2 separate regions of the Homo sapiens genome follow, and region 2 is reported to be linked to region 1. The links are microRNA targets in miRTarBase. Many come from high-throughput screens and were not tested one by one. Region 1 holds a microRNA gene; the other region holds the end of a gene's coding sequence.
Evidence for each region. The annotated mature microRNA hsa-miR-5088-3p reads UCCCUUCUUCCUGGGCCCUCA and lies in region 1 at 3,042-3,062, shown strand. An mRNA with a match to its seed (bases 2 to 7 or 8) in the 3' UTR can be bound and repressed. Matches are read on the target gene's strand: a 7mer-m8 pairs with bases 2 to 8, a 7mer-A1 pairs with bases 2 to 7 and ends in A, and an 8mer does both.

Region 2: the mRNA of KCNJ9 is a reported target of hsa-miR-5088-3p. Seed matches in the 3' UTR shown: 7mer-A1 at 826-832 and 7mer-A1 at 2,575-2,581.

Annotation. Positions count from the first base shown.
Region 1 is chr19:49,679,133-49,683,483 of GRCh38, forward strand. It overlaps MIR5088 (microRNA 5088), which reads left to right and starts at 2,985; the gene lies at 2,985-3,063. PRMT1 (protein arginine methyltransferase 1) reads left to right here. Exons shown (of 11, transcript NM_001536.6): 2 at 740-793; 3 at 1,355-1,456; 4 at 2,778-2,933; 5 at 3,064-3,127. RefSeq lists silencers at 1,414-1,783, 1,630-1,794.
Region 2 is chr1:160,087,164-160,091,545 of GRCh38, forward strand. It overlaps KCNJ9 (potassium inwardly rectifying channel subfamily J member 9), which reads left to right. Exons shown (of 3, transcript NM_004983.3): 3 at 323-3,400. The coding sequence ends at 654. It overlaps IGSF8 (immunoglobulin superfamily member 8), which reads right to left. Exons shown (of 7, transcript NM_052868.6): 7 at 4,180-4,382. Among named protein-coding and RNA genes, the nearest start is that of KCNJ9, 7.8 kb to the left of the region's middle.

The DNA of each region.
Region 1 (4,351 bases):
CTCGGCCTCCCAAAGTGCCGGGATTGCAGGTGTGAGCCACCGTGCCCCCAAGCCACTTTCTGGAGTCCTCTCATTCTTAGAGGGTCCAGGAGCTGCCCATCTTCCCTGGGACCCTACCTTCGTGGGCAGAGGGTCATAAGGGAGGGGGTTGGTTCCAGCTGGTTTTGTTTGGGGCTCCTGAGTCCAAGGCAGGAGCTGGGGTCTGGGGTACTAGCTCTGGGGAAGTACCCGTGTGCCACACCTCTATTCTGGAATCCTCTCAGACATGAGACTGGTTTGCAGAGGTGGCAGATGCCCTGTGGGCATATCCTGCCAGCCCCGCTCCCTTCTGCTATTCATGGCACCCTAGGATAGGGGTGTGTGTGTCAGGAAGTGTCACCTAATCTGGAGGAGATTAGGTGATGAGAGGGAGCGACAGCTGGCGGTGGTGGGTGCCAATTCCCCTGGCCTGGATGGGGGAGGTGTGTGGTCAGCTGCCTGGCCAGAGAGGGGCAGCGTGGGGGTGGGCCACCATCTCTCCAGCCACAGCTGGGATAGGAGACCCCCCTTTCTTCTCCCCTCACTTTTCCCACCCTTTCTTAAACACCCCACCTCATTACTTGCCCCCTTCGCCACCACTCCCCACCAAGAAGGAGAATTGCTGGAAACCCACCCCCCGGCCAGAGCCCAGGTTCCGCCACCCAGCCCTCCCACAGCCACTCCCAGTAGCTAATCCTTTTTCCCTGTTACTCTCTCCTAGAATTTTGTAGCCACCTTGGCTAATGGGATGAGCCTCCAGCCGCCTCTTGAAGAAGTAAATATCCTTTTGTGAGACCCCTCCCCACCCTGACCTCCACATCAATATATCTTGCCACACATCTGGCCCTTTCTTGAGGTCTAACCATACCCCTCTTGCTTCAAACCAGTTTACCCCAGGCCCCCAGACACTTAGTAGCAACCCCTCCAGGTTCACAGCCCCCGCTGGCCTCCCCCAGTATCGCCGCTACTTCCTTAACTCCACCTCCAACCCCCCTTTGCCCTTCCCTGTGTCTGCCCCCATTTTCCTTCCCCTCCCCTCCCCAGCTGTGGGCTGAGCTAGAGACGGGGTCAGAGAGACTGGAGAGATGGTAGGCGTGGCTGAGGTATCGGGGTGCTCCCCTGGATGGTGCTCTGGGGGGGTCCTGGAAGTGGAAAATGGGGTTGTTAGGTTTTGGGGTTCCTGGGGGGGCAAGATGGCAGGCGGGGGCTGTAGGGTTGTCATGGTATGATTTTGGGGGTTCTATACTACTCTTCAGGGAAAAGTAGGGCGCTGGAGGTTTAAGAGGCTGTGGGGAGCCCCCAGATCTGACCCATGATCCCATCGGCCCCCTCCCAGGTGTCCTGTGGCCAGGCGGAAAGCAGTGAGAAGCCCAACGCTGAGGACATGACATCCAAAGATTACTACTTTGACTCCTACGCACACTTTGGCATCCACGAGGTCAGTGGGGACAGTCCCCAAGGCCCCAATCTTAGGGGGGCTTAAATGTTGGGGAAGGGGTGGAACCTGTTTTCCCACGCATGCGCACTGCTTCCCCTGGCCGCAGGCCGCCCCCCTGCCCCTCTGCTGCGCACTTCCTAGGGTCGCCTCGCCAAGCCGTTGCCTTGGAGACCGAGGTTAGCCTGAATCTCTGCAGGGGCCTCGCGCCGAAGGCTGGGGTGGGAGAGCGCATGCGTGCCTGGGGCCTTAGCCAGAGGTCGGGCAGGGCCCACTGGTCTCTGCCGCCCTCTAGTGACCGGCGGTGGGACTGCGCCCCGGCTGCTCCCGCCCTAACAGCTTCTGCACACTTCAGATCTGACTGAAGACACTGAAATCCCAGAACGAAGCTGGGGTGGCATTCTAAGGAATTTTCTTTTCCCCCTGAGGCCTTTTTCATAAAATTGTGGCAAAATATGCATAAAATTGCCATTTTTTATTTTTAGAGACGGTCTCGCTCTGTCGCCCAGGCTAGAGTGCATTGGTGCAATCATGGCTCACTGCAGCCTCGACCTCCCCGGCTCAGGTGATCCCCCCACTTCCACTTTCGGAGTAGCTGGGACCACAGGCGCGCGCCACCACGCCCAGCTGATGTTCTTATTTTTCTGTAGAGATAATCTTGCCTTGTTGCCCAGGCTGGTCTCAAACTCTTGGGATCAAGTGATCCTCCGGCTTTGGCCTCCTGAGGTGCTGGGATTACAGGCGTGAGCCACCGCTCCCAGCCTGAGGACTTTTAAAAGCCAGGGTTCACTGGTTCTTAGGTAGCAGTGGTGAAGTCCGGCCAAGATTGGAGTTTAGACCATCTAATCTGATTTTTTAAAAAGGGAAACTGGCTGGGCGCAGTGGTTCACGCCTGTAATCCCAGCACTTTAGGGGGCTGAGGTGGGTGGATCACCTGAGGTCAGGAGTTGAAGACCAACCTGGGCAATATGGTGAAACCCCATCTGTATGAAAAATACAAAAATTAGCCGGGCATGGTGGTGTGCACCTATAATCTCAGCTACTTGGGAGGCTGAGGCAGGAGAATCACTTGAACCCAGGAGGCGGAGGTTGCAGTGAGCTGAGATTGCACCATTGCACTCCAGCCTGGGCAACAGAGTGAGATTCCATCTCAAAAAATAAAATAAAATAAAAATAAATAAATGAATAAATATAAAAGGGAAACTGAGGTGCATGGAAGAAAGCGAGAGGGCCGAGCTCTGGCCCTCCGAGCTCTCAGGACACGCTGTTCTCCAGCTGGGGATATGGGGCCCCTCACGGCGTCTCTGTGCCATTCTTGCCCTAGGAGATGCTGAAGGACGAGGTGCGCACCCTCACTTACCGCAACTCCATGTTTCATAACCGGCACCTCTTCAAGGACAAGGTGGTGCTGGACGTCGGCTCGGGCACCGGCATCCTCTGCATGTTTGCTGCCAAGGCCGGGGCCCGCAAGGTCATCGGGGTGAGTCTCCAGGGTGGCCAGGCGGGGCCGGGCCTGAGGGATGGAGGGGAGCCCATCAGGGCTCAGGGATTGGATGGAGGTGATGGGGGCAGGGGATGGGTCTCACCCTCCCTTCTTCCTGGGCCCTCAGATCGAGTGTTCCAGTATCTCTGATTATGCGGTGAAGATCGTCAAAGCCAACAAGTTAGACCACGGTGAGCCCAGAAAGAGGATGGGTTTGTGGGAGTGGAGGGGGTGATGCCCTGCTTCCCCAGGGCCCTCTGAAGAGCAGTGGGGTCTACAGATGACCACAGATTCAGCAGCTCCCAACCCATGGTCTTTTGGGCTGCCGGCCGCCTGAGAATCTGAGTGTCAAAATCACAGGCTTAGCACCGCAGTCTTAAAATTAGGGCAAGAAGCACTCTCTAGTTTCTTGAATGAGTAATAGAGTCACGTGGTTGGCCACGGAAGGCCCACAGTGAGAAGCCTTCCCTGTTTCCCAGCTGCCCTCCTCTGAGTTTAACCAACACTAACTTCCAGAGAAGTCTGGACCTACAAACACATACATACGTAAATGCATTTACATTCTCGTGCATAATTTTCACGCCAGTAGCATTTCATACCAGCCTCTTGCCCTTGGCTTCTTACACCTGCTTGTCATGTCGTTTAACACTTTCCAGGATGTTGCGGCATCCGCTCTTTTGCATGACCACCATCATAGGTACATCCCCAGCATTTTTTTTTTTTTTTTTTTTTTTTTGAGATGGAGTCTCACTCTTTTGCCAGGCTGGAGGGCAGTGGCACGATCTCAGCTCACTGCAAGCTCCGCCTCCTGGGTTCAAGTGATTCTCCTGCCTCAGCCTCCCAATTAGCTGGGATTACAGGCGCCAGCCACCACGCCCGGCTAATTTTTTTGTTTTTTTAGTAGAGACGGGGTTTCACCGTGTTAGCCAGGATGGTCTCGATCTCCTGACCTCGTGATCTGCCTGCTTGCCTTGGCCTCCCAAAGTGCTGGGATTACAGGTGTGAACTTTTTTTTTTTTTGTATTTTTTTAGTTGAGACATGGTTTCACCATGTTGGCCAGGCTGGTCTTGAACTCCTGACCTCAGGTGATCCATCCACTTTGGCCTCCCAAAGTGCTGAGATTACAGGCGTGAGCCACCGTGCCATCCTGAAGTGATTTTTAAAAAGAGATTATTATAATGAACGCACGAGTCCATTTGAAGCAAATTCCCACTGTGATGTAATTTTCCCGGTAAATGCGTCTGCTTGTGTCTTATCTAATAGATAAAGGCTGTTTTGAGAATGTGATCATGCTGTTACTTATTATATCAAAACCACCCAGTTAAAAACAAAATCGCGGCCGGGCACAGTGGCTCACGCCTGTAATCCCAACATTTTGGGAGGCCGAGGCGGGCGGATCGTGAGGTCAGGAGAT
Region 2 (4,382 bases), not on the chromosome of region 1:
GGAGCCCTGTATGGAGTGAGAAGTTGGACTAGAGGATCCCTAAGGTTAGTTTCAAGGTTAAGCTTTTTTTGGTTGGCATCACCAAATGACAGGAGGGGAAAAAAGAGCTGGACATTAAGAGGAGTTGGGGCAAATGGAGAAGACACGAGGGAGCTGGGTAAGAACAGGAGCTAGGGAGGGGGGGAAATGGACTGGACCAAAGGGAGGTGGGAGCCCTTAGGAAGGAATAGAAGGGAGGGTGCTGGGAGTAGGGTTGTGGAATGAGAAGAGGAGAGGGAAGCCTGGAGCTGAGATTCCCCCTGACCGGTGCCCCTCCTCCCAGGAATGACATGCCAAGCTCGGAGCTCCTACCTGGTAGACGAGGTGCTGTGGGGCCACCGCTTCACGTCAGTGCTGACTCTGGAGGACGGCTTCTACGAAGTGGACTATGCCAGCTTTCACGAGACTTTTGAGGTGCCCACACCTTCGTGCAGTGCTCGAGAGCTGGCAGAGGCTGCCGCCCGCCTTGATGCCCATCTCTACTGGTCCATCCCCAGCCGGCTGGATGAGAAGGTGGAGGAGGAGGGGGCGGGGGAGGGGGCGGGTGGGGAAGCTGGGGCTGACAAGGAGCAGAATGGCTGCCTGCCACCCCCAGAGAGTGAGTCCAAGGTGTGACCAGCTTCCTCCAGACCCCTGTGGCAGACCGGGGGCCAGACACAGATACATGGGGAACTGCATATCGGAGGTGGTGGAGGAGGAGGAGGAGGAGGAAGGCAAAGCCCCTGGAAATGTGCTAAAGTTGGAAAGTCCCCGTCCCCCAGAACCTCAAGTCTAGAAACCAGTATGGAAGGGAGGGGTCCTGATTTCAGGGAAATGGAGGGTGGGGCCGGGTGAAAATGCCAGTCTGTGTTTGACCTTCACATTTGTTCATGAGTGGATGGATGGACAGAATGATGGACTTTTGGGGGTTGGATGGGAAGATGGTAGCAGATAAAGACAGCTGACAGATACATAGATGGACCAGTAGACAACTGGTCCACTCAGGGCTGCCACTAACCTGTAGAACACCCCTGTGCAAATTTTAAAAAGGAACCCTTTTCCTCCAGACAGATACAGCCCCAAACCAGGGTGCATGGCTTGGGGAGCAGAGTATAGGATGGATTGCAGTCCCCAGTCACCTCTTCTGCCAGCCTCCCCACATATGGCACAACTGTCTAATGACACGGTAGGCCAAGCTGAAGTGAAGGAGAAAGGAGCCGGACCAAGATGGGCACATGAGGAGGGTGCCCTCCTAGCTCCACCCTCACCAGGATGAAGGCGTGCAAGGGGCTCAGCAAGGTGTGAATGACCTTAGTCCGCAAGTTCAGGGAAGCAGGCAGAGCGGGGAGGTGCCTGAGCTGGGGCCTGGAGAGGGGCCTGGGAAAGGAAAACCAGGGATAGCTATTTTCTTACAGTGGAGTGAGATCTTACAGGTATCAGGCACAGGCAGGAAGAGAGAGAGAGAGGTTCTGGGGAGGAAGGGCCAGGAGAGAGATCTAGAAAGTGGGTTCACTAGAGCTGGGAAACAGGGAGCCCCTAGGAAAGCAGTGTGTCCTTGGGGCACAGTCATTCACATCACTGATTGGGTGCCATGTGGAGTGGACATTCAAAAACCTGGTTCCTGTCCTCAAAATAAGGGGCACCTGGGAAAACAGAGGAATCTACCTGTGGTGACTGAACGAGGGATAATTCAAACTGACAACCTGTGCAGTCCCGTGGAGGGTAGGGGAGTGTGGGTGATCAGAAGGCTGGGGCCAGTGTAAGGCATAGGGAATATGTAAGTCAGGAGTTAGAAATCTCCAGTGTGCGTTGGAATCACCTGGAGGGCTTGGTAAAACACAGATTTTTGGGCTCCACTCCAAGGGTTTCTGACCCAAGAGGTGGGGACCAAAACCATGCATTCCTAAGAAGTCCCCAGGTCATGCTGCTGTTGCTGGACTGAGGACCACACTTTGAGAACCTGTGCTCTAAGTGAATACTTGGAAGTCGTTTCAGGACATGGGGCATAGAAACTGAGGAGTAGCTGAGAGGAAGATGAAGAGAAGCTGAGAAGAAGCTGAGGATCCTCACAGGAGCAGACAGAGAAATGTGAAGGGTGGGGTTTTATGTGTGGGAAAGGGACCCGAAGCCCAGGCTGAAGAGTTTAACTTTGGGCCCAGAAACTCAACCATCAATGGAAACAGGGCAGTGACAAGTGGAGGGGGTGTCTGGAAGCTGAGCAGGCCCGACAGAGAGATGAAGCCATCAGAAGGACTTGAGGGGGCTCCTGGGGAGGTCGGGGGGAGGTGGAGCAGGAAGAGTTTTAGGGGCAAAGGACAGAACCCCTTGTAGGACTGGAGGCAAGATTGAATGTGGGAGAAAATCGGAGAGAAGCGATAGGAGTTAGAACATCTGGATGTGTCTGCAGCCTGCTGTCAGCCCAATTGGGCCAGGGGGTCCCAAAGACGCATATTCTCACCCCACCTCCACCTGCTTCCTGATCACATCCCAGTCACCAGCGGCAGCTTCCTGGATAGTGAGGGAGAACAACTGCAAGTTGAGAGAGGCAGAGGGGTGGAAGGGACCTGAAGCTGGCCTGGAGAAAAGCATAGGCCCAGGAGAGCCTGCCCTGGGACAGCGCCTGTCTCCCACACAGCAGCACTGGCCCAGCAAGGACCTCCTCCCTTGGCCCTGGCCACATCCCACTCCTGCCCTTTCATAAGCCCCCTGGGGAAAGCACTCCAGTCTTCTCTGTTCCAGGCTGGGCAGATAGGGTCCTATGGGGCACAGCCAGGGTCCTATGGGCATAGCCAGGGCCCTATGGGTCCTCTGGAAGCAAGAAAGGGGGCCATGGAAGCAGCCCAGACAGCTGGGGTTCACTCAGAGAGGACCCAAGTCCCAGTCCCTTCCTTTCAGTCAAAACACGGATATCTTTGCCTCAGGTCACAGGGCCACTGGGGCCCTGTCATCAAAGATGAGATTCCTGAAGCCTGGCATTGACTGGTCCCCTAAGAACAGATGTTGGGATGGAGAATGGGGATTCATTTGGGTTTCAGTAAAACAGGGGGGTCTGGACAAGAGCGGGTGGGCTACTTGGTATCCACACACACGCACTCACACAGGAGCCAACCCATTGCAGCTGAACAAGCAGAGAAACTCAGTCTGGAAAGGCCCCTCCTGCCTGCTGAAGTCACTGAGACCCTGCCACACCTCTCCTCGCCACTGTCACCACTCAGGGCACCACTGTACAGTGCAACAAGTCAGGAGACCTAGGTCCTACTCCTGACACTTGCTAATTAGCTCTATGACTCTGGGCAAATCGCATATCTGGGCCTCAGTTTCCTCATCTGTAAAAATGACAGCAAACTCGTAATGCTCAATAAATGTTTAAATAACAACTGAAGGAGGCCTGCCAGATGCCTCTTAAGGTGCCGTGCAGGTAAGAATTTTAGGATCAGAGAATCCTTAGGCAAGAAAATTCATGAAACTCCTGGGGCACTGGAGGAGGGGTGAAGCTGAAGGGTGGGAGGGAGGAGACCCCAGGGTAGGTACAGGCAGGTGAAGCGGGTATATGCAGGTGTAGTGGGTATATGCGGGTAGAGGGTATATGCAGGTACAGCGAGTACATGTGGGTGCAATGGCTCTGTGGACACACAGGCCCTCCCCTGACTGCCTGTTGTCCCAGCCTGAGTATCAGTTGTGTTCTGAGGCTTCTATTCTGCTGCTATGGGTCAGAAGGAACAACAATTTCAGCCCCAGGGCCTAGTGGGAGGAGTCAGGTCCAAGACTAGCCTGACCAGGAGAATGAGACGTGGGAAGAGTTGGGGAAAGTCTGGGAAGCTCAGAAAAGGCACTGCCCCTGGAGGCCCATGCCCTTTAACATGGGAGAAGCTGGTGCGGGGGTGACCACAGGCAGCTGGAACCTACCCTCCTTTTCTATGCTTCCCTCCCCAAGTAGGAGTCCAATCAGGAGTTGTCTCAGCCCCGACAGTTCAGGCTGCAGATGGAACCCAGGTGTCCCCTCCTGGGGTGGGTGGCATGGCCCATGGAGGCCAGATGGTGTTTGTGGTGGGAAGAGAGGCCTGGGTCATCCAGAATAGGTTGTCAATCCCCAACCACCTCCCTACTATGCACCCTGAGCGTTTTACAGTCTCATGGTAGGGAAGACACAGCCAAGCCTGCTTTTTATAAAACAAGTTTATTCACATTTTAGAAAAACTAATTCCAGGACAGGAAATGGCCTCCCTATAGGATCCCTAAGAGATCAAGAACAGAAGGCCAGAGGGAGGGGCTTGGGAGGGAAGGAGTGGGGAAGGGGAGGCACGTCTCCCATTCTGGGTAGTGGGAGGTCAAATAAATTAAAGGAAGAGTGGACAGAGGGAGAG